Linked DNA regions of Homo sapiens. The protein of the gene in region 1 purifies or fractionates together with the protein of each later gene. This does not show direct contact. Each region holds a gene or a part of one and is shown in the gene's direction. Other genes may lie near its edges. The genes, in order: MTG2 and PREP.

Region 1 (10,956 bases):
CTCACGCCTGTAATCCCAGAACTTTGGGAGGCCAAGGCGGGCAGATCACGAGGTCAGGAGTTAAAGACCAGCCTGGCCAACATGGTGAAACCCCATCTCTACTAAAAATACAAAAAAGTAGCCGGGCGTGGTGGCAGGCGCCTGTAATCCCAGCTACTGGGGAGGCTGAGGCAGGAGAATCGCTTGAACCTGGGAGGTGGAGGTTGCAGTGAGCCGAGACCGCACCACTCTGCTCCAGCCTAGGCAACAGAGCGAGACTCTGTCTCAAAAACATACCCAAAAAAAAAAAATCAGGTTTCATGCTCACAGGAGGATTTGAGGAGGGTTTATAAAGGGACCGTTTGCAAAGGCAGAGTGCAGGTTAATGACAGTTGGTCCTTTAGCCTGGAACTGGTGGCAGTGGAGTTTCTACTCCTGGACTCCAAAGGATCAGGGAAGGCAGCAGTGATCGGGACAGGGAGAAGAGTCACTGGGGAGGGCTTCTTGGACTGGAGGTGTGAGCCTCAGTCTGAGTGGGCAGGGAGGTCCATGTCCCGGCCTCCTGCTCCTGCCTCCAGTCTCTGGTAGAGGGCCAGGTCCCAGTAGGTTTTCCTATGGGGCAAGCTCAGGCTCCTGACACACAGCACAGGGCAGGGTGGAAAGCTGGTCTGGAAAAGCAAATGGAAGATAGCTCGGCATGCAGTATTACCCCTCGCAGGGTATTATCGTTAGGAATACATTTAAAAGTGGATATATTGGTTGGGTGTGGTGGCTCGCGCCTGTAATCCCAGCACTTTGGGGGGCCGAGGCAGGTGGATTTCCTGAAGTCGGGAGTTCAAGACCAGCCTGGCCAACACGGTGAAACCCCGTCTCTATTAAAAATACAAAAATGAGCTGGGTGTGGTGGTGGGTGCATGTAATCCCAGGTACTCGGGAGGCTGAGGCGAGTGGATCACTTGAACCCATGAGGCGGAGGTTACAGTGAGCCAAGATCCCACCATTGCTCTCCAACCTGGGCTACAAGAGTGAAACTCTGCCTCAAATAAAAAAGAAAAAAAATGGCCAGGGCGTGGTGGCTGATGCTTGTAATCCCAGCAATTTGGGAGGCTGAGGTGGGCGGATCACGAGATCAGGAGTTCAAGACCAGCCTGGCCAACATGGTGAAACCCTGTCTCTACTAAAAATACAAAAATTAGCTGGGCGTGGTGGCATGCAGCTGTAATCCCAGCTACTCGGGAGGTTGAGGCAGGAGAATCCCTTGAACCCGGGAGGCAGAGGTTGCAGTGAGCTGAGATCATGCCACTGCACTCCAGCCTGGGCGACAGAGCGAGACTGTCTCCAAAAAAAATAAAAATAAAAAATAAAAAATAAAATATATACACATACATATATATACATGTATATGTATGTACACAAATTAGCTGAGCGTGGTGATGGGTGCCTGTAATCCCAGCTTCTTGGAACGCTGAAGCACAAGAATTGCTTGAACCCAGGAGGCGAAGGTTGCAGTGAGGTGAGATCATGCTATTGCACTCCAGCCTGGGAGTGAGACAGAGTGAGACTCTTGTCTCAAAAAAAAACCTTTCTGTGATGAGGGCAGTGTTCTAATATGTGCTGTCCCATATGTACCCACTCGTGACATGTGGCTGTGTGCACTTAGATGTTACCTCAGGGACTGAGTTTTTACATTTCAGTTAATTTTAGCCAAATGGCCACATTTGGCCAGTGGGGACTGTGCTGGACAGGTCAAGGACAGCCTTGTTGGAAGGAAAATAAAGACACCAAAGAGCAGCGTGAAAACAGTGGGATTTGTTCATCCGGCAGGGGAGAGAGCACAGCACTCAGCGGGCCTCCAAAGAGAAATTGAAAGGGCAAAAAGGAGGAAGCAAATTAGGCAAGACTCCGAGTTCAGGTCTCTGGTTGGCTTTGCAACCTTCTCTGCGGTTGATCTGCAGGTTCCATGTCACCTGCATCAGGAAGCCTGGTTTCCAGAATATCCGGGCTGGATGGTGTAACGTTCCAGCAGGCTGAGCCGTGGCTATGCTTGTGTTGATGAGCCCGAGTTGTTTTTCCCCAACCTGTTTTTATGCACCACCCCTGAGCCTTCCCATCTGATAGCTCTGGGTTAAGTCTCTTCACCTGTCTGCCCAGTTTCCGCAACTTTAAAATGAGGATGATGAAGGACTTACTTCACAGAGTTTTATGAGGACTGAATGAGTTAATCCCTGAAAAATACTTAGAACAGTATTTTGCAAGTAGTGAGGTAGAGGTCTTGAAGGTTTACTGTGAAATTATTTTCAGGTACTTTTTGTATTTGGCACTACCATAAATGGGGTTTTTTCTTAATTTTAATTTACAGTTGTTTGCGGCTGGTATTTAAGAATACAACTGATTTTTTTATATTAGCCTGATAACATGCCATCTTGCTCAGTTCCCTTCCCTGGGACTTTTTTTTTTGTTTTTTTTTTTTTTTTTTGAGATGGAGTCTTGCTCTGTCACCCAGGCTGGAGTGCGGTAACGTGATCTCGGCTCACGGCAGCGTCTGCCTCCCAGGTTCAAGCGATTCTCCTGCCTCAGCCTCCCGAGTAGCCGGGACTACAGGCACGTGCCACCACGCCTGGCTAATTTTTATATTTTTAGTAGAGATGGGGTTTCACCATGTTGGCCACGCTGGTCTTGAACTCCTGATCTCAAATGATCCGCCCACCTCGGCCTCCCAAAGTGCTGGGATTACAGGCATGAGCCACCGTGCCCAGCCTTCCCTGGGATTCTCTGTGGAACTCTGTCCTCTCTTCTGTAAACAGGGACAGTTTTACTTCTTCCTTTTTTCCCCCTTTATTTCAGTGTGTGAAAGGACATTGTTGCATAGCAGTGGTATGTGTGGAGGCCCTTTTTCTCCATCTTGGGAGGTAACCATTCAGTATTTCTTCATTAAATGTGATTAGCTGTCGGCCGGCCCTACGTAGTGCCCTTATCAGGGCGAAGATGTTCCCGTCTGTTCCCAGTTTGCTGAGATGTTTTGTTTTCCTCCTCATGAGTGGGTGTTGAGACGGTGGTACCACCTGTTGATATAGTGAAGTGCCTGGGCTGAGTTTTGACTGCTTGATGTGGCCTTGTGTTCTGAGATTACCCCTACTAGGTCTTGATGTGTGATCCTTTCTGAACTGCTGGATTCAATTGGGTAATATTTTGTTAAGAGTTATTTGCATCTATATTCATGAGGGGTATGGTCTATAATTTTATTTTTTCTTAGTGTCAGATTTTGGTACTAGCCTCATAGGATGAGTTGGATAGTGATCTCACTTCCTCTATTTTCTGAAAAAGCTTGTGTAAGATTGGCACTGTTTCTTCCTGGAATGTTACATGGAATTTACCAGGAAAACAAGCCGAGCTAGAGTTTTCCTTTGGGGAGTGTTCTTTTATAAGAAATTTAACTTATTGAGTAGATACAGGGCTATTCTAGATTGTTTATTCTTGTGTTTCTTTAATAAGTTGCCTTTTTCAAGAAATTTGTCCATTTCATGTAAGTTGAATTTGTTACTGAATTTGCTGGCATGAAGTCGTTCCCAGCATTCTCTTGCCCTCTGGCTGTCTGTAAGGTGTGTCCTGATAACCCGTTGAACATTCCTGACAGTGGAGGTTTGCGCTCTCTCGTTTTCCTGATCAGGCTAGAAGTGTGTTAGTTAGCTTGTCTTTTCAGTGAACCTGTTTTTTTCTGTTACATGTTATTGTTGTCTCTTTATTTCTGCTCTGTATTATTCTCCTCCTTCTACTCGACGCTTACTTTGCTCTTTCTGGTTTCTTGATTTGGAGCCTTAGGTTACTGATTTTAGATCTTTCTTCTTTACCAAGGTAGCCATTAGAGCTGTAAGTTTCCTTCTAAACACTACTCTAGCTGCATCTCTTAAATTCTGGTATTTCATGGTGGCGGGCGCCTGTAGTCCCAGCTACTCGGGAGGCTGAGGCAGGAGAATGGCGTGAACCCGGGAGGCAGAACTTTCAGTGGGCCGAGATCACACCACTGCACTCCAGCCTGGGCGACAGTGCGAGACTGTCTCAAAAAAAAAAAAAAAAAATTCTGGTATTTTGCATTTCCATTATAATTCAGTTCAAAACATTTTGTAATTTCTCTTTTGATTTCTTCTTTGGCCTATGGATTATTTAGAAGAAGCTTGTTTGATTTGCAGGTATTTGGGATTTTCCTAGATATTTTCTAGCTATTGACTTCCAATTTAATTCCGAGAATAGACCCTGTGGTTGGTATTCATATACTTCCCCCCAGCCCCACCACAGAAGCTCTGTCACACAGGCTGGAGTGCAGTGTGTGATCATGGTTCACTGCAGCCTCCAACTCCTGGGCTTAAGTGATCCTCCCACCTTAGCCTCCTAAGTAGCTGGTATTATAGGCATGCACCACCATGTCCAGCTAATCAGCTAATTTTTTTTTTTTTTTTTTTTTTTTGGTAGACACAAGGTCTCGCTATTTTGCCCAGGCTGTTCTCAAATTCCTGGCCTCAAGTTTTTCTCCTGCCTTGGCCTCTCAAACTGCTGGGATTACAGGTGTGAGCCACTGTACCGGGCCTTTCTGTATACTTCAAGTAATCTCTAGATTATTTATAGTACAATACAATGTAAATGCTATGTAAATAGCTGTTATACTTTATTTTTTAAATTAAAAAAATTGTTGTATTGTTACTGGTTTTTTTGTTTGTTTTCCAGATATTTTTGACGTGAGGTTTGTTGACCCCACAGATACGGAGGACTGACTATGATTTCTTCTCAATGTATTGAGACTTATGACACATCTTATGGTCTGTTTGATGACTTCCACCTGTACCTGAAAACAGTGTATATTGTACAGTTGTTGGATGTACTGTTATGTAAATGTCAACTAGATAAATGTTTTGATAGTATTGTTCAGATTTTATGTCTTTACTGTTTTTATTTTTCTATTTTTAGACAGGGTCTCAGGCCAGGTGTGGTGGCTCATGCTTGTAATCTCAGCACTTTGGGAGGCCAAGACAGAAGGATCGCTTGAGACCAGCCTGGGTAACTGGGAGACCCTGTCTCTGCAAAAAAAATTTAAAAATTAGGCACAGTGGCACTTACCTGTAGCCCCAGCTACTCAGGAGGCTGAGGCAGGAGGATCTCTTAAGTACAGGAAGTCAAGGCTGTAATGAGCTGTGATTATGTCACTGTGCTCCAGCTTGGGTGACAGAGTGAGACTCTGTCTCAAAAAAAAAAAAGAAAAAAAAGTGTCTCTTTCTCTCATTCTATTGCTCAGGCTGGAGTGCGGTGGCATATTCATAGCTCATAGCAGCTTTGAATTCATGGGCTCAAGTGATTCTCCCACCTCAGCCTCCAAAGTAGCTGGGACTATAGGGGTGCGCCACCATGCCCAGCTAATTCCTTTGGTAGAGACAGGAGTCTTGCTATTTTGCCGAGGCTGGTCTCGAACTCATGGCTTCAAGAGATCTTCCCGCCTTGGCCTCCTACAGTGCTGGGATTACAGCCAGGAACTGCTGTGCCCAGCTAGCTCTTTTTAATCCACTTTGTCAACCTCTGCCTTTTAATTAGAATTTGTAAACATTAACTTTTTTTTTTTTTTTTTTTGAGATGGAGTCTCGCTCTGTCTTCCAGGCTGGAGTGCAATGATGCAATCTCGGCTCACTGCAACCTCCGCCTCCCCGTTCAAGCAATTCTCCTGCCTCAGCCTCCTGAGTAGCTGGGATTACAGGCACACGCCACCATGCCCAGCTAATTTTTGTATTTTTAGTAGAGACGGGGTTTCACCACGTTGGTCAGGCTGGTCTCAAACTCCTGACCTCGTGGTCCGCCCGCTTCAGCCTCCCAAAGTGCTGGGATTACAGGCATGAGCCACCGCGCCCAGCCAACATTAACATTTAATGAAATTATTTATATGGTTAGATTTAGGTGCACTTTTATTATTTGTTTCCTATTTGTCCCCTCTGTTTTTTGTTTGTTTGTTCTTTTTCTTTGGAATTGTTGGGCTAGTTCTGAGCATTTCATTTATCTGTTGGCTTTTCGGATCTGTGTCTTTGTGTTGTGTCTTAGTCATTGCTCTGGAGGTTCCAGTCTGCACACCTGTTAGCCTTCACTGTCTGCTCAGAGTTCATACTGTGCCCCTCACAGAAACGTGGGGACCTTGCAGTCATCTGGGTCCCTCGAATCCCCTCCTGACCTTTCTGTTGCCTTTCATGTGGATTACTTCTGTGCGCGTTGGAAGCCAACTACGCAGTATTTTTTTGTCTACAGTCTTACATATTTAAGAACTCCTAAGAGGAAAACAATAGTATTTTATATTTACCAATTCTGTTGCTCTCCCTTCCCTCCTCAAGATCCAGGCTTCCCTCTGGTATCATTTTCCTTCAACCCGAGGAACTTTCTTGAGCATTCCTTATACAGCAGCTGTATTAGTGACAAACTATGTTCGTTTTCTGCCATCTAGAATCTTTATTGCACCTTCGTTTCTGAAAGATATTTTCCCTGCGTATAGAATACCTCGGTGCCTCTTTTCTGACAACACTTAAAAATATCCCTACATAATGGTTAAAAGCAGGGTGGATCCTGGCCTAGATCCTGGACCAGAAGAAGGACGCTCTTGGGAAACTGCTGAGCCCCAAGCCCCACCTGGAGCTCAGTTAGTAGCGGTGCAGCGGCGGCGGCCGCACAGGCACGGCTGCGGGGGCACTGGGGAGGAAGTCCGCAGGGATGCCTTTGCACCTTGTCCACAAATCTAAAACCATCTCAAAATCAGCTGTCCTGTAAAATATATTTACAGGAAGGGTATCAAGGGGAGGGTGTCCCATGGAGAGGTGGCCCGGCACGGGAACTCAGCCAGTCGGAGAACAGAGACCCGCTAAAGAATGGGGAGCTCTGGGAGCAGGCGGGGAGGTGGAGCTGAGGGCGGGTCACAGCAGGTAGGGGTTGAGCAGCTCCATAAATATCTTAAAGTGCATGGAGGCCCGGTTTCTTATAGGCGGAGAATGGAGTTACCAAGACCACAAGAGAAAATTAGAATGACCCCAGAGTGCTGAATTGGGAATGAGGACGTCCTGTGCACAGCTGGCCTGCTGCCTCCCACGTGTCAGGGCTGGCTCGGGAGTCAGGAGAGGCTGAGGAACCTTCCAGCCCAAGGAGCTGGACAAGGTGTGGCAGCTGCAGGCAGCCGGGATAGGGACGCAGACTTTCCTACAGGGAGAGGCACTGCTGAGACCGGGGCCCACGTGGGAGGGGCTGTCGGTCATGGCCAGTCTCAATGACACCCTGGTTCTGGAGGGGACACCATTTTCTCTAGGAAACACACATGGACTGTTCTGGGTGCAGGGAAGTCCAGTCGGCGACTGACTCTTAAGTGATTCAGGAGGAAGTTCTTTGTACTCTTCTTCCAGCTTTTCTGTAACTGTGATTGCCTCAGAATTAAAGCAGAATGGCCAAGGACCCCACAGAGATAGTGACCCCCCCAAAGGAGGTGGCACCTTTTCAGAGGAGTGAGGCTGGGGAGAGGGAGGCGTCCGAGGCACTGCGAGGGAGGAGGCAGGCGGTGTCCCCTCGTTGTGCTCCCGCTCTGGCCCCGTGTTGAGTTTTCAGCCGTCCACTGGGGCCCCTTCTGTACACATCTTTTGTAGTCAGGATGGGGAGCACCTTGTAAGGTCCCTCCTGTGCGACCTGCTGAAGACTGGGGAGCTCTGGGAGCAGGCAGGTATTTGTGCTCATGGTGAAGGGAGAGGGGCTGTCCTCTCCTGGAGGGCAGGGTCAGGACTTCCTCACTGTGCCCTTGGCACCTGCAAGGTAGCCGGCTGTCATGAGCGGCTTGTTGAATGAGTGACAGCTTAAATGAGGCTTTGAGAGTGACAGTAGCTGGCACTTAGAGTCTGCAGCTGTGCCAACCCTGTCGCTCCGGGGATATTTCCACCCACACTACACATCAGGCACCAAATGTGTGGGTTTTCCACACCAACAATTCGCCAGTCCTCTGCAGACACCAGCCAGGCATCCTGTAATTCAGTTCAGTCTGACCCTGCCGCGGTTATCAGGGACCCCAGCGTTAGGGGCTCAGTCACCCCCCACTTCAGATGCTAATTGCAAGTAGTGGGTCCCTGGGGTACCCACACTTCTGTCCATCTTGGCTACACATTGGGAGTTCCTACGACCCCTTCAGGTTTGATGATTTGCGGTAGTGGCTCACAGAACTCAGGAAGGCACTTGGTTTGCATTGCCAGTTTACTATAAAGGATGCCACAGCGGGCACAGGCAGGCAGCTGGGTGAGGAGGGGCACGGGCGAGGCCCAGAGGGTCCTAAGCATAGGAGCCTTTGTCCCCAGGGAGTTGTGTGGCTGGCCTTACAGCACGGGGATGAGTTCACCAAACTGAAAGCTTTCCAGAGCCCCTAGTTCCAGGATTTCCATGGAGGCCTCATCATGGAGACATGATCAGTTATGAACTCAGCCTCCAGCCCCTCTGCCCTTTTTGGAGGGTGGGGGTGGGGCCGAAAGGTCCAGGCTTCTCATCGTGGCTTGGTCTTTATGATGACCAGCCCCCTCCCAAGGCCATCCAGGAGCCCACCAAGAGGTGCCTCATTAGAACAGAAGACTCTCCTGTCACCTGGGAAGTCCAAGGGATTTAGGAGCTCTGTGTCAGGCACCCCTATCGCCCCTGTCACTCAGGAAATTACCAGCGTTCTGAGAGCTCTGTGTCAGGAGCCAGGAGCAGGGGCCAAGTGTGTTCTTCTCATTCTATCGGTGCCACAGCCAGGGCCGCGGTTGTGCAGCCGTGTGGATCAGCTCAGCCCGTCCTCACCCAGCCGTGTGAGGAGGCCGAGGCCACACAGGTGGATGGCCTTCCCTTAGAGTTACTTTCCAGAGCCTGGGTGCTTAGCCGCTATGCCCCATGTTTAATATTCTTGTGTTCCAATGTAACAACTTTAAAATTACACAGGATAACACTCTTGATAACATTTTAATAAATGGGTGTTTTTCTTTTCAAGAAATTTTGACTTGCACTTCAGATTTCCTTTTTAATATTTTCGTTGAGCGGAACCTTGCTATTCCATAAGAGGATGTGTCCAGTGTTGTGGAAGATTTCATGTTTTAAATCCTTTGTACAGAAATCCTGCTCCCAAGTCACAGATAGGCTGACGGGTCAGAGGGCAAGACGTGACCCAGGGCCGAGAGGGTGAGTGACCAGGAAAATCGGATTCATCAGTTCACTTGTTTGTTTCAGAAACGTGCACAAAGACCTGCTGCATGAGGCCCTCGTCTTCAGTTTCTGTTTCATGCCCAGCATTAAACCAAGTATCTCATTTTGCCAATTTGACTTCTGTAGGGGCCATGGCACCTGCAAGGTGTTTCTCAGCAAGATTGAGGACCGTGTTTCAGGGCGTGGGGCATTGGGCTTTGTCCACATGGGCTGGCCTGAAGCCCAGCCGGCTACTGCCACAGCGGGCTTCTCCCAGGCTGCTCTCGGTCGGCCGTGCGGACCTCGCCAAGCATCAGGAACTCCCGGGGAAGAAGCTGCTCTCTGAGAAAAAGCTGGTGAGACTCCTGGAGTTAGAGCAGCTTGCCTGTCTCCTCCTCAGAAGGCACAGGGTGTGGTTTCGGGTCCTCCTCTGGGTCTCATCTCTGTTGATGTTAGTTGATGATCTTAGTGATGGGGCACGTGGAGCTTCTTGAAAATGACAGGGTGAAACGCAGGCCTGCGTGCTAAATCCCACGCTCAGCAAATCCCAGCAGGCTGGGAGAGGCGCTGCGTGCTTGGAAAGCCGTGATACAGGCTGCTCATTTTCCCATGAGCCTGTGTATTTTACATGTATGTTACATATATCCTTTCATATGTGTGGCTATTTCTTAATTTAAAACAAATGCGGAGGCTGGGCACGGTGGCTCATGCCTGTTATCCCAACACTTTGGGAGGCTAAGGCAGGCGGATCACTTGAGGTCAGGAGTTCGAGACCAGCCTGGCCAACATGGTGAAACCCTGTCTCTACTAAAAAAAAAAAAAAAACCTTTTTAAATTAATAAATAAATAAAAATAAAACAAGTAGGGGGGAATATACCTTCCGTTTTATGGTTCTTTAAGCCTTATAAGTTTTTCTTGTTCTATTTACCAAAACCTCCTATTTAAAGCATGAATTGTCTCTAATAAATTCAAGAAAATGCACGTTTATGACTCCCTTCGTTTCCTGCTGAATGGAGGGGCTCCAGATAAGCATTACTGGGACAAACAGCACTTCCAGTGGAAAAGCCGCTTTGGTGGGATGTGTGCTCAAATAGCTGAAGCGTTAGCACAGGCTTGTCTCCTCCCCAGGAGAGAAAGTGAGTCGAGGTTTTGTCCTCCACGAAGTGCTCACCAGTGGGGCTTTCCTCCCTGTCTGGTGGATTTTGCTTGCGTTGGCGCATGACAGCATTACACATTGAAATTTGGAAATAACAGTTCGTGGTTTTCCCACATGGTGGTGCCAAAGAATCTTAGAATGTTTGTGTTTTAAATTTTTAAATTTTTTTTTGTGTTTAAATTTTTGTGTTTAAAAATTTTAAATGTTTTAAAATTTTCTTTTAAAAGAAAAAAAAACTGCATTTGAGGAGTATTGGATCGGAGTGCAGAGGCAGCAGCCCTGGGTGGCTGTCAGGGGCAGGGCACGTCTGTCTGTGCACGTGGGCAGAAGCCAGGTGTCCTCCCCAGCGTGTGGTGAGGTTGCAGCACCCTGGGCTGCGGGAGCTGACCCTCCTGTGGTAGGAGCTGTTGTGTGTTGAACAGTAACCTGGTTGGTTCTCTCTCTTCATCCAGATTGCACCTACCTTAGTGACCTACAGAACAGCTTTCCTAGCCGGGCACAGTGGCTCACGCCTGTAGTCCCAGCACTTTGGGAGGCCGAGGCGGGTGGATCACGAGGTCAGGAGATCGAGACCATCCTGGCCAACACGGTGAAACCCCGTCTCTACTAAAAATACAAAAAAC
Region 2 (10,956 bases), on another chromosome or scaffold:
TTTAAGTTCTAGAGGCTTTTAGAAAAATACAGATCCACCATATGGATTAGCATTGTGGTATTGATGATATATTTCCACAGTGCATAACAGAACTTAAATTGAGGCTTTTTTTTAAATGCAGTGTTAACCCATGGTTTTTAAGTTAATCAGTATTTGAAACCGTGCTCTATCATTTGAATTCCCATTAGATTAAACTTATTTTTATGTTTTGTTAATTAACTATCTTCCACTTTGGCACACTGTAGGTGGTATCTTGGCCAACAAACAAAACTGCTTTGATGACTTTCAGTGTGCTGCTGAGTATCTGATCAAGGAAGGTTACACATCTCCCAAGAGGCTGACTATTAATGGAGGTTCAAATGGAGGCCTCTTAGTGGGTGAGTACTGGATTTTATTCATTGCACTTACTAGTTAGCCCTCTTGGGGTTTTCAGATACACCATCTGTAGGCAGCTCTTGACTTAACTTTGTGGATAGGACCACAAAGTGGTATAAGGAGAGCAAAACCCATTTGTACCATTTGTATTTGGGTATCTGATAAATGACATACGAAGAGACCCTATTTATTTTGCCTTGGGCAGGTCCTGAGATCTTGAACAAGTCCCTTAATCTCCCTCATCACTGTGAAAGCAAGTGGGGATGGGAGGAGGGGATACAGGGTTTCCAGAAAGTCCTCAAGCTTTTCAAGATTCACTTTGGGGAGTAAAGCTCCATTACTGATGAGAATCCCCACCCCCTCTGACAGATCTCAGAGTGGGTGGGGAGCTTTGGGGCTATTGGGCAGGTGATTTCTGATGGTTTCCTCTTGTGCTCTGGATAAATGCAACCAGGGCTCTGGAAGCATGTAAGTAAGTATTGCCTTGCCTTGTTTATGTAGATGTTTAATGATAGACTGCCTCCCTTTTCTTTCTACGTTGGGCTTTTAGCTGCTTGTGCAAATCAGAGACCTGACCTCTTTGGTTGTGTTATTGCCCAAGTTGGAGTAATGGACATGCTGAAGTTTCATAAATATACCATCGGCCATGCTTGGACCACTGATTATGGGTGCTCGGACAGCAAACAACACTTTGAATGGCTTGTCAAGTAAGGTTTTATTGACATATATATGTTGTTAGTGGTTTGATATAAAGTTGAACACAGTCACAGCAGGATTAGTGCTTGAGCTTTGTCACTGTCAGGGTCTTGCATTTGCATATAATCTGCTGGAGAGGAGATGGGACTACCTACTTGTCTTTCTTGATTTAATATGGTCTTGAACAAAAGCAACAAACTACAAAAAATGTGGTAGGGCAGAATTCTACAGATGGCCTCCCAAGATTCCTACCCTGGTTATTCAAACACTTACCTAGATACTGCTTGCTGTCAGGGAGCAGGATATTCATCTGCTGCTCTTTGGATTATCTCTTGAGGGGTCCCAAATCACATAAACCCTTAAAGGCTGAGCACATTCTCTGGCTGGAGTCAGGGATGCAGCAGAAAGGGAGGTCAGAGAAATTGGAAGCTTGTAAAGGATTCAGCCTGCCATTGCTGGTTTTGACAATGGAGGAAGGGGGACCTCTAGAACCTGAGAGCAACCCCCAACCAATAGCCATCAAGGAAACAGGACCTAAGTCCCACAGCCGCACAAAACTAAATTCTGCCAACATCCCGAGACTGCAAGTAGGTTTTTTCCAGAGTTTCCCCGTAAGAGTCCAACCAGCCAACACCTTGACTTTGACCTTCTTTGACCTTGGAAGACCCAGAGCAGAGAACCCAGCTGAGCCAACCCAGACTGCTGGCTTACAGAACTGTGAGATAAGAAGTCTGTGATGTTTCAAGCTGCTAAAATTTGTGGTAATTTGTTACTGTAACAATCAAAAGGTATTATTATACTTTATATCAAATATATGGGATTTCCTTTTCTAAATTAAGTAAAGAATATATGCTCCTGAAATGGCAGGTCAAGAGTAGGGGAAGGGGGTGTTGAGTATGGTGGCTCATACCTGTGATCCCAGCACTTTGGGAGGCCAAGGTAGATCACTTGAGCTTAGGAGTTCAAGACCAGTCCTTCATGGGCAATGTGGTGAAATACTGTACTGTCTCTACAAATAATTAGCTGGGCATGGTGATGCATGCTTGTAGTCCCAGCTACTCGCGAGGCTGAAATGGAAGGATGGCTTGAGCCTGGGGGGACAGTGAGCCAAGATCACACCACTGCATTCCAAGACCCTGTCTCAAAAAAAAAAAGGAATATATTCAAATACAATTAAACTTCTTTTATGCTCAATATAGCTACATATGTTTGAAACTGCAAGTTGCATTATTGAAATCTTACACAACTTCCATTGTATCCTGCAACCACTATGCTGATAACAATGAGTAAACAGACATTAAAACTTCTTTTTGGCCCTTCATTCCCCATATGTAAGAGTTTTATTTTTAATCACCAGTGTTTGGCTCTCAGACTGGCACAAGAAGCCTGTTCCTCCTATTAGTAAACTACAAATTTTGATGAAAATAACTTTAGTTTCTAAAGTTTTGTTTTTTTGAGACAGAGTCTTGCTCTGTCACCCAGGCTGGAGTGGAATGGCGCCATCTCGGCTCACTGCAACATCGCCTCCTGGGTACAAGCAGTTCTCAGTTCTCATGCTTCAGCCACCTGAGTAGCTGGGACGACAGGTGCGCACCACCGCACACGGCCAAGTTTCTAAAGTTTGCTCTTTCATTTTGTTTGCTTTTTATGGCTAGCCTCTCCAGTTTGAAATATACTTAAAATGACTGAATTTTTTTTAACTGGATACTTTACTAAACTCTATTCTCTAAGGGGAAACAAAGTTCACTATGAAAGTTATTACTTTTCAGTACATGCAGGCCTCATTGACACACATTGGTAGAAGCTATATATTTGAAGAAGGAATATCTAACTTAGAGAAAATTTGCACGTAAGGAAACAAGTCCTATTTAAACTCATTTGAAAATACTGAGTTAATTGAAGGCAAAAGAATATTAGATGACACCTAATACTTTCAAACTTAATTTAAAAACAAAGAAAGTTCTAAATATTTTTCTCCATGATGTTCCTTCTTCAGTTTTCAAATCTTGCTCTCACAGGGCTGCATTTCACCTGCGGCTGGTAAAATGAGCATGGAACTCAGCCCACACTAGCTAGGAAGGGTCCTACAGGGAGCTCCTCAAGCCCAGCACACCTCCCCGCCCCCTGGGCTGTGCCTCATGGAGCACCATCCAGAATTAGTAAAAGGTGTTTCCCCAAAAAAAGAGCTAGAGCTCCAAGTTTGAATGGCTGGGCGATAAATAAAGCCTAATGTATTTTTTCCTACAGATAATGTATAAATATTGCATGTGAATCTCCAAGGGGGAGATTGTTATTATTAACAGGCAGGGTTTTCCAAACTTGTTTCTTTTTAGAACTAACCCATATTTGGAAGAATGGGGCTGGTCAAAAGACACTCTTAAATGAGATCAGAAAACAGATCTCCATCTTATCTGGTGGGAAACTGAGCCCAAGAATGTTTTGGCCTCACGTTGGTTAACTGAGCAGAATTTTTACTGTTTTCACTATTTACCTACCCTTCAAAATAAAACTCTACTAAAACAGGTGATTTTATTCATTAATAAATATTAAATACATTGAAAAACATGACACCCCTATTAGGAGAATGTAAAGAAAAAATATCCAGATATTTCAACTATTATCAGTCACTGTTAAAATCAACATTACTTTTATACTTAACACCCTTTTTGTTAACTTACCCAGGAAACTTGCCTGGTACTTCGGAAGGTGCCCTCCTCCTCTGGCAAAGTCTGTTGCTTTCTGCCGGACTGAGAGCCAGCAGGAGGCTCAACAGCCCATCCAGGTTTCTCGGTTTACAAAGAAACTAGGCCCAGAGAGGACATGTGCTTTTCCTAAGATTGCAAAACTGAGCCTGGAATAAAGGCTTTATAGATGTTATTAAAGGGGCAGCAAGCCCCTTTATACTGTGGATTTCAAGTTTCTCAACAAAAGAAAGGCTTGGACTTTTTTTGAACCACTGAGTGTGGTTATAATGACAATTATTACTCCACTTTGTAGCAGTAAAAAAAAAGCCTAGAGAATATGAAACTACTCACCTTAAGAGACAGTAAGCATGCCTGTGATTTGGGTTGTTTCAACAGACCTGTGAGCTTCCTTCCTACAGTCTTTCAAAGTTGGAGCCACATAAATGACACAGCTCCCCAGTTTCCAGGAGCCCTTGCCAGTCATGGCCTAAATGGTAACGCATAGGCACAGTCCATGGTGGTCACTCACGTACTAGTTAACTGCAGTCCTCACTGCTAATTAACTACCTAGGTCCCTGTGCCATAAAACTCTACTGTTGCTCTCCAGCCTCACAAAGGTGTTTTTGCCTTCCAGATACTCTCCATTGCATAATGTGAAGTTACCAGAAGCAGATGACATCCAGTACCCGTCCATGCTGCTCCTCACTGCTGACCATGATGACCGCGTGGTCCCGCTTCACTCCCTGAAGTTCATTGCCACCCTTCAGTACATCGTGGGCCGCAGCAGGAAGCAAAGCAACCCCCTGCTTATCCACGTGGACACCAAGGCGGGCCACGGGGCGGGGAAGCCCACAGCCAAAGTGATAGAGGAAGTCTCAGACATGTTTGCGTTCATCGCGCGGTGCCTGAACGTCGACTGGATTCCATAAACAGTTTTCGTGCTTCCTCCTGACAGCGACAGAAAACCTCAAGGGCTTTCCCACGTTGACACCAAGAAACCACTGGGCATAATGCTTCCCCACGGGAACATTATTCCTGCACTCACAGGCTACAGTTGAACAGAACTGCCGTGGGAATTTTATCTTTTTTAGGCTTCTCCTTTTTAGCAAGGCCTTGGTGTTTCTTTTTCCACCCTGTCTAGGCACATGTGGTTTTTTGGTGTTTTTTTTAAGGGCATGTTGGGATAAATAGCTAAATGGCAACAAACACATTGTGAATATTAGATTGCTGAATTAAGGATCATAGTCGGGCATACTTATCTATATCCATAACCTCTATATCTTTAAATAAATGTGAGAACTGTTCTCATGGAGAAGACTTCTTTGCAACAATAATAAATGTTATTTAAGAATGACAGGCTTTTACTTCCGGTTTCTTCATATTGAGGGGCAACTCCAGAAGTGGAGTTTTCTGTGAGAATAAAGCATTTCACCTTTCTGCAACAAGTTAGTTTTCAAGCAGTTAAGTCATAGAATGTTTGTTAGCTTTGAAAATAAGTTGTTCATCCACTCTGTCTCCCTTGTTTGTTTGTTTGTTAGAGGTGATGAAGCTGTCAGAGGGGGTTCACTGTCATAAACAAACACTGACCACTTAGTTGGGTAAAAATCTGATCTGGGGCTCTTTTGGTTTGGATGCCTCCTTTCAAAAATCACTGGGCTGGAAAATTCAGATTATTCACCTATTTGTATATTGATTTGTTTACAAAGTATTCCTAGAAATCAGAGTTCCTTGGATCCAAGGATCCTTGGTTCCAAGAGATCACATGAGTAAATTATCCAAACAAACAGATACATATATCCAAGCATTTCTTACAGTCAGAAATTTCAGCATTTCCCAAGCTGTTTCTCCTGCATAGATCACTCCTGGAAATAGAAATAGTCATACTTACTTACTGGAAAAAAAAAAAAAAAAGTTTTGGTTTGCCCACCCCCAAGATTTTTAAGATATACTATTCCTTAAACTTTCATCCATAAAATTTTTTTCAAGGCATATATTTTAACATTTCATGAAACAATGTTCCTTTGAGTATCAGTTTGGGAAATGCTGATCTAACTTAAAACAGTTTTTTTTCCTTTGTCTTGCTTTATCAGATGATATGATAAAAATTATTATTTTATATAGTATCTTAACCTTATATAAAATAGCTTAAAAGATTACTTCATTATTCCAATAATTTGTACTTTTCCAAGTAAGTCCCATCTTCCAAGTTGTATATGTATGTGCTTTTAAGAGCACTCTCTCATTCTCTACGTTTCAAGTTATGGTCAAAAATTAGACATACCATTTTCTATCAAGCATATCACTGCATACCAAGCATATTGAAAGACAGCTATATGGCTTGGTTTTTCTCTACTGGAATCATGTTTTCCGTTACTATTTAGTACGGTACATAATACAGTTGTCATTGAGTATAAGATTCACCATAACTCCTCTGGAAACAAAGTGTGCCAGTAGCTAGTGTTGCATGCTGAGACTCTGTCGTCATCACCATCTACTCAGATACTGATACTAGCTAGCTTTGGTGTAACTGCTGACCAGCATGGCAGGAAAGAAAGAAAATACATTTGCATGGTCAAGCCAGAGGCAGCCTCTTTCCTAGACTAGCTGTGTGGTGTGAAGTACAAATAGCTGAGTTGGACCCACTGAGTCCAGAGCATTTTCAAGGTTGCACAGAATCTAACCATACTTTCTGAGGTCTGCTTTACAGCAGAAAATACAGTGTGTAGTGTGTGAGCTTCAGATATCAGGACTGGGTTCAAATCCCAAATGTCACTTAGCAACTGATGAGGAGGAGGAGGAATACAGTAATACGTTTTTAATGCCTAGCATGATTGGCCTCCAGTTACGAGTTCTCTTTTCCAACCTAATTTTTGTGTCTAGATTTTCACAGGACAACTAATCCCACCAACTAAAGGTATTTTGGGGAGTAGGGGGAGCTTTAAACATTAGAAATAAGACTTGAGATTGGGCTCCTACCCAGAACTCTAAGGGATTCTTCTCTATTTGATCCCACTTTTCTGTATCCTGTGCTCTGCCCTTTGGCTCTTTCTTATGATTACTCTCTTCTAGCTATTTTGAAATGCACAGTAGATTATTGTAAACTATAGACACCCTACTGATCTAACACTAGGTCTTCTTTCAAACTGTATATTTGTAGGCATTAATCTCTTCATCCTCCCTTTCTCTGCCTGCTTTTTTAGCTCCCACATGAGTGGAGAACATGGGATATTTGTCTTCCTGTGCCTGGCTTATTTCACTTACCATATTGACCTTCAGTTCCATCCATGTTGCTGCAAATGACAGGATCTCAGTCTTTTTCATGGCTAAATCATATTCCATTGTATATATGTACCACATTTTCTTCATCTGTTCATCTGCTGATGGGCACGTGGGTTGATTCCCTATCTTGGCTGTTGTGGATAGTGCTGCAGTAGACACAGGAGTGCAGATATCTTTTTGATATACTGATTTCCTTTCTTTTGGATTCATACCCAGTAGTGGAATTGCTCGATCACAGAGGACTTATATGTTTAGTTTTTTTAGGACTGTTTTGAAAAAGAAAAAGTTGTACATGTTGCACAGGTGGCCTCACTGCTTTGTCACAAGGCCCTGCTAAGCACACCAGAGCATTTGTTACCTTAGCAAGATAAAGTCACATTTATGTTCACTATGGACTTACCTGGAATATTATAAAACTTTCCAATTAATCATGTTTCTTAAATACTCCCACTAAAGCTTAAGCAGCTACACACACATGGTGCTACAAGTTTGAAAAGGATAAGTTTCAACTAAGGAAGCCTGTCACCAGTCTCTCAAGGTTTGTCAGTTTTACCAGCCTCTGGAAGTTCCCAGCAGGCCACATAGCTAATGCCCAGAAGGAGTTGCAAAGACTCAAAGGCAGGTTAAGGACAGGCTGGAAAGCTGTGGAGGTTGCTGTAAAGAGGCAAAGGTCATACTGTTGGGGTGGTCAGGCCAGTGGGATGAGGACTGAGGCCCTTGAAGGAGGAACATTGAGCCATTCTCATCCTCCATATCTCAGGGGCTGAAGGTGCAGAGAGAAAATGTCCTGCCCTCATCCAGTTGATATTCCAGGGAGGAGACAGATGGTAAATTATCTTGCTCATGTTTACCCTGTGCCACCCGCTGCAAGCACTCTGTGTGGATGAATGTTTGTCCTCACACAACCTTAGGAAGCACATAATACCTTTTCCCCATTTGGCAAAGGTCCAAGTTCCCCAGCCAGGAGGTGGGCAGGCAGGGCAGTAACCCCAGGAGCTGGGCCTTGGATACTGCACTCTTTTTTTGGGATGGAGTTTTGCTGTTACGGCCCAGGCTGGAGTGCAATGGCGCTATCTCAGCTTACTGCAACCTCCACCTCTTGGGTTCACGTGATTCTCCTGCCTCAGCCTTCCCAGTAGCTGGTATTACAGGCGCATACCATCATTCCCGGCTAATCTTTTTGTATTTTTAGTAGAGATGGGGTTTCACCATGTTGGCCAGGCTGGTCTTGAACTCCTGACCTCAGGTGATCCACCCACCTCAGCCTCCCAAAATGCTGGGATTACAGGCATGAGCCACCATGCCCAGCCGAAACAGCTCTCTTACTGCTGTTGTCTGAGTGTTTATGTCCTCCCCGAAATGTATATGTTGAAATCGTAAATCCCAAAGTGATGGAATTAGGAGGCAGGGCCTTCAGGAGGCGATGGGTCATGAGAGCGGAATCCTCATGAATGGGACTGGTGCCTTTATATTAGAGCCCAAGGAGAGACCCCCCCGCCCCATCCCTTCCACCATGTGAGGACACAGGAGACGGTGTCACCTATGAACCAGGAAGCAACCCTCATTAGACACCAAATCTGCCAGTGCCTTGATCTTAGATGTCCCAGACTCTAGGACTGTGAGAGAGCAATTTCTGTTGTTGACAACCCACCAGTTTATGGTATTTTCTTATAGCAGCTTAAACAGACTAAGATACCCACGAGTCTATTAACAAGATAATAAACAAAGTATAATTTCAGGAATTAACAAGAAACAGGAATAAAAAGAGCTGTGAAGAAACAAAGTGGGGCAAATGAATAGTCCGTGAGAAGGAATGCTATTTGAGTCGAGGTCAGGGTGCCTCTTTCAGGAAGCAACATTCGGACAAAGACCCGAACGGAATGAGGGGACAAACAATGGGCAACGTTTTGGGGGTTGGTGAGGACAGCAGCAATGGGCAGAGCCTGAGGCAGGAACCAGCCAGGCCTTTGGAGGAAGAGCAGGAAGCCAGTGTGGGGGGAACAGGGAGCCAGGCGAGGCCTGGAGGATACACTAGAGATGGCAGGCAGCTCAGTCAGGTGAAGCCACTGAGAGATGAAAGCCGACAACACTGTGGGAAACTGACAGCAGGAGAGCCTAGGGAAAAGCGGGGTGGTTATTCAAAGAGCAGGTTGCTTAGCACCTTTAAGGAATTTTGGGGGTGGGGGCAGCAGGAACCCACCATCACAAAAATCACTGACATGCCATATCATGGATGAATCTCAAAAACATTATAAGTGAAAGAAGCCAGACACAAATGACTGGGTATAGTCTGATTAAGTGAAATATCCTGAAAAGGCAGTTCTATAAAGATAGAATGTAGATTAGTGGGTACCTGGAGTTGGTGGTGAAGATGGTAATTAACTACTTGGGCATAAAGGATCTAACCGGGATGACAAAAATGTTCTAAAACTGGATTTCAGTAACGGTTGCACAACCTGGTAAATGTATTAAAAAGTCATTGAATTGTACACTTGAAATGTATGAATTTTATGGTTTGTAAATCATAATGTTATCGAAATAATCTCTGGTAGTGAAATAAAGAGAAAAAAGAGCAATGACCCTTTCTGGATGAGTGCCATCCAGGAATAGCCACCTGGAGAACTGCAGAGTCAAGTAAGAAAGGCAGGTGACCAGGGGCAACTGAGATAAAAGCTTGCATATCAGGCTTAGGCAAAGAGGATGAGGGCTATTTTGAGCAGCCGTCTTTAGGTCAGGGTTCACATTTGCAGGCAAAACTGTCCCTCTCTCTCTCTGAGTTTGCTCCTGTAGATCAAATATCAGGCCGGCTGATAGGGTGTCCTGAGAATATGCCCTGCATCCACCTTACAGGCTTTGCTCTGCTCAGGAGCTCAGGGCCTCCTGCAGCCACGTGACCGCAGCACTGAGAAGCAGGCAGGGGGAGGCACGGGCAAGGAGGGTTCGTTCAATGCCAAGTAAGTGACTAAGGAAGCTCTTGTTTACTGTGCAAGAGAAAATGACTTGGTGGCCATTTGTGGAGGTTATTAATGCCAAATAATCTAGAAATTATAAACAAAATATCATAATGGTAATATATGATTTAGAAACTGATTTACATCTAATTGACACAATATTATAGTGTCTTCCAGTTCCAAAGTATGAAAGGCTTTGAGAAACATCAGAGGAAAGAGCTTCCAGTCACCTCTATGGAGAGTCAAACTGAGGTTAACCTGAAAACCAAATCAGCATCAAAACATAACCACCCTAAAACTCCAGAGAAAATGATGGAAGTTAATACAGGTAGCACTGAGTTATTTCCCCAGGACATTCAGGTGTTGGCGCTGTGATTGGCATTTTTCCAGAGGACCAGGTTGCCTGCAACCTCAGGCCCCAGAAGATGCAGGAACCTGAACACCAGGGCCACCCCCTGCTCTGTCACTACTCTGGTCTTGCCTTGGAGTGTGAAATGCTGCAATTCATCCAAGATACAGTCATGCAGCATATAACATTTCTGCATATGACTGCATGTATAATGATAGTCCCATAAGATTATAACAAGCTGAAAAATTCCTATCACCTAATGACATCATAGCCACCATCATGTCGCAGTGCAACACACATGTGTTTGTGGTGATACTGTTGTAAACAGACCTACTGCAGTGCCGGTCATATAAAAGTCTAGCACATACAAGTATGTACAGTACCTAATACTTGATCATAACAGCTGTTCCTAGTTTACGTGTTCACTATATTATAGTTTTTTATCATTTTGAAGTATACTCCTAAAAACAAAAAAAGGCTACCCTGTAAGACAGTCTCAGGCAAGTCCTTCAGGAGGTTTTCCAGAAGTAGTCACTGTTATAGGAGATCACAGCTCCATGAGCGTTACTGGCCCTGAAGACCTTGGAAGGATGTGAAGTGGAAGACAATGAGCAATATTGAT

Evidence for each region.
Region 2: the proteins of MTG2 (region 1) and PREP purify together in Homo sapiens (affinity purification with mass spectrometry; 2 studies listed by BioGRID and IntAct, with this or other methods). This does not show direct contact.

What each region holds. Positions count from the first base shown.
Region 1 is NC_000020.11:62,184,092-62,195,047, forward strand, and holds part of MTG2 (mitochondrial ribosome-associated GTPase 2), read left to right. Parts: intron 1-4,442; exon of another isoform or gene 4,443-4,747; coding exon of another isoform or gene 4,748-4,790; intron 4,791-5,417; exon of another isoform or gene 5,418-9,245; coding exon of another isoform or gene 9,246-9,329; coding exon 9,330-9,533; coding exon of another isoform or gene 9,534-9,587; intron 9,588-10,785; exon of another isoform or gene 10,786-10,922; intron 10,923-10,956. UniProt on the Homo sapiens protein: Plays a role in the regulation of the mitochondrial ribosome assembly and of translational activity. Displays GTPase activity. Involved in the ribosome maturation process.
Region 2 is NC_000006.12:105,271,872-105,282,827, reverse strand, and holds the end of PREP (prolyl endopeptidase), read left to right. Parts: intron 1-245; coding exon 246-377; intron 378-925; coding exon 926-1,082; exon of another isoform or gene 1,083-2,207; intron 2,208-3,749; exon of another isoform or gene 3,750-3,812; intron 3,813-4,389; coding exon 4,390-4,684; 3' UTR 4,685-9,610; downstream 9,611-10,956. UniProt on the Homo sapiens protein: Cleaves peptide bonds on the C-terminal side of prolyl residues within peptides that are up to approximately 30 amino acids long.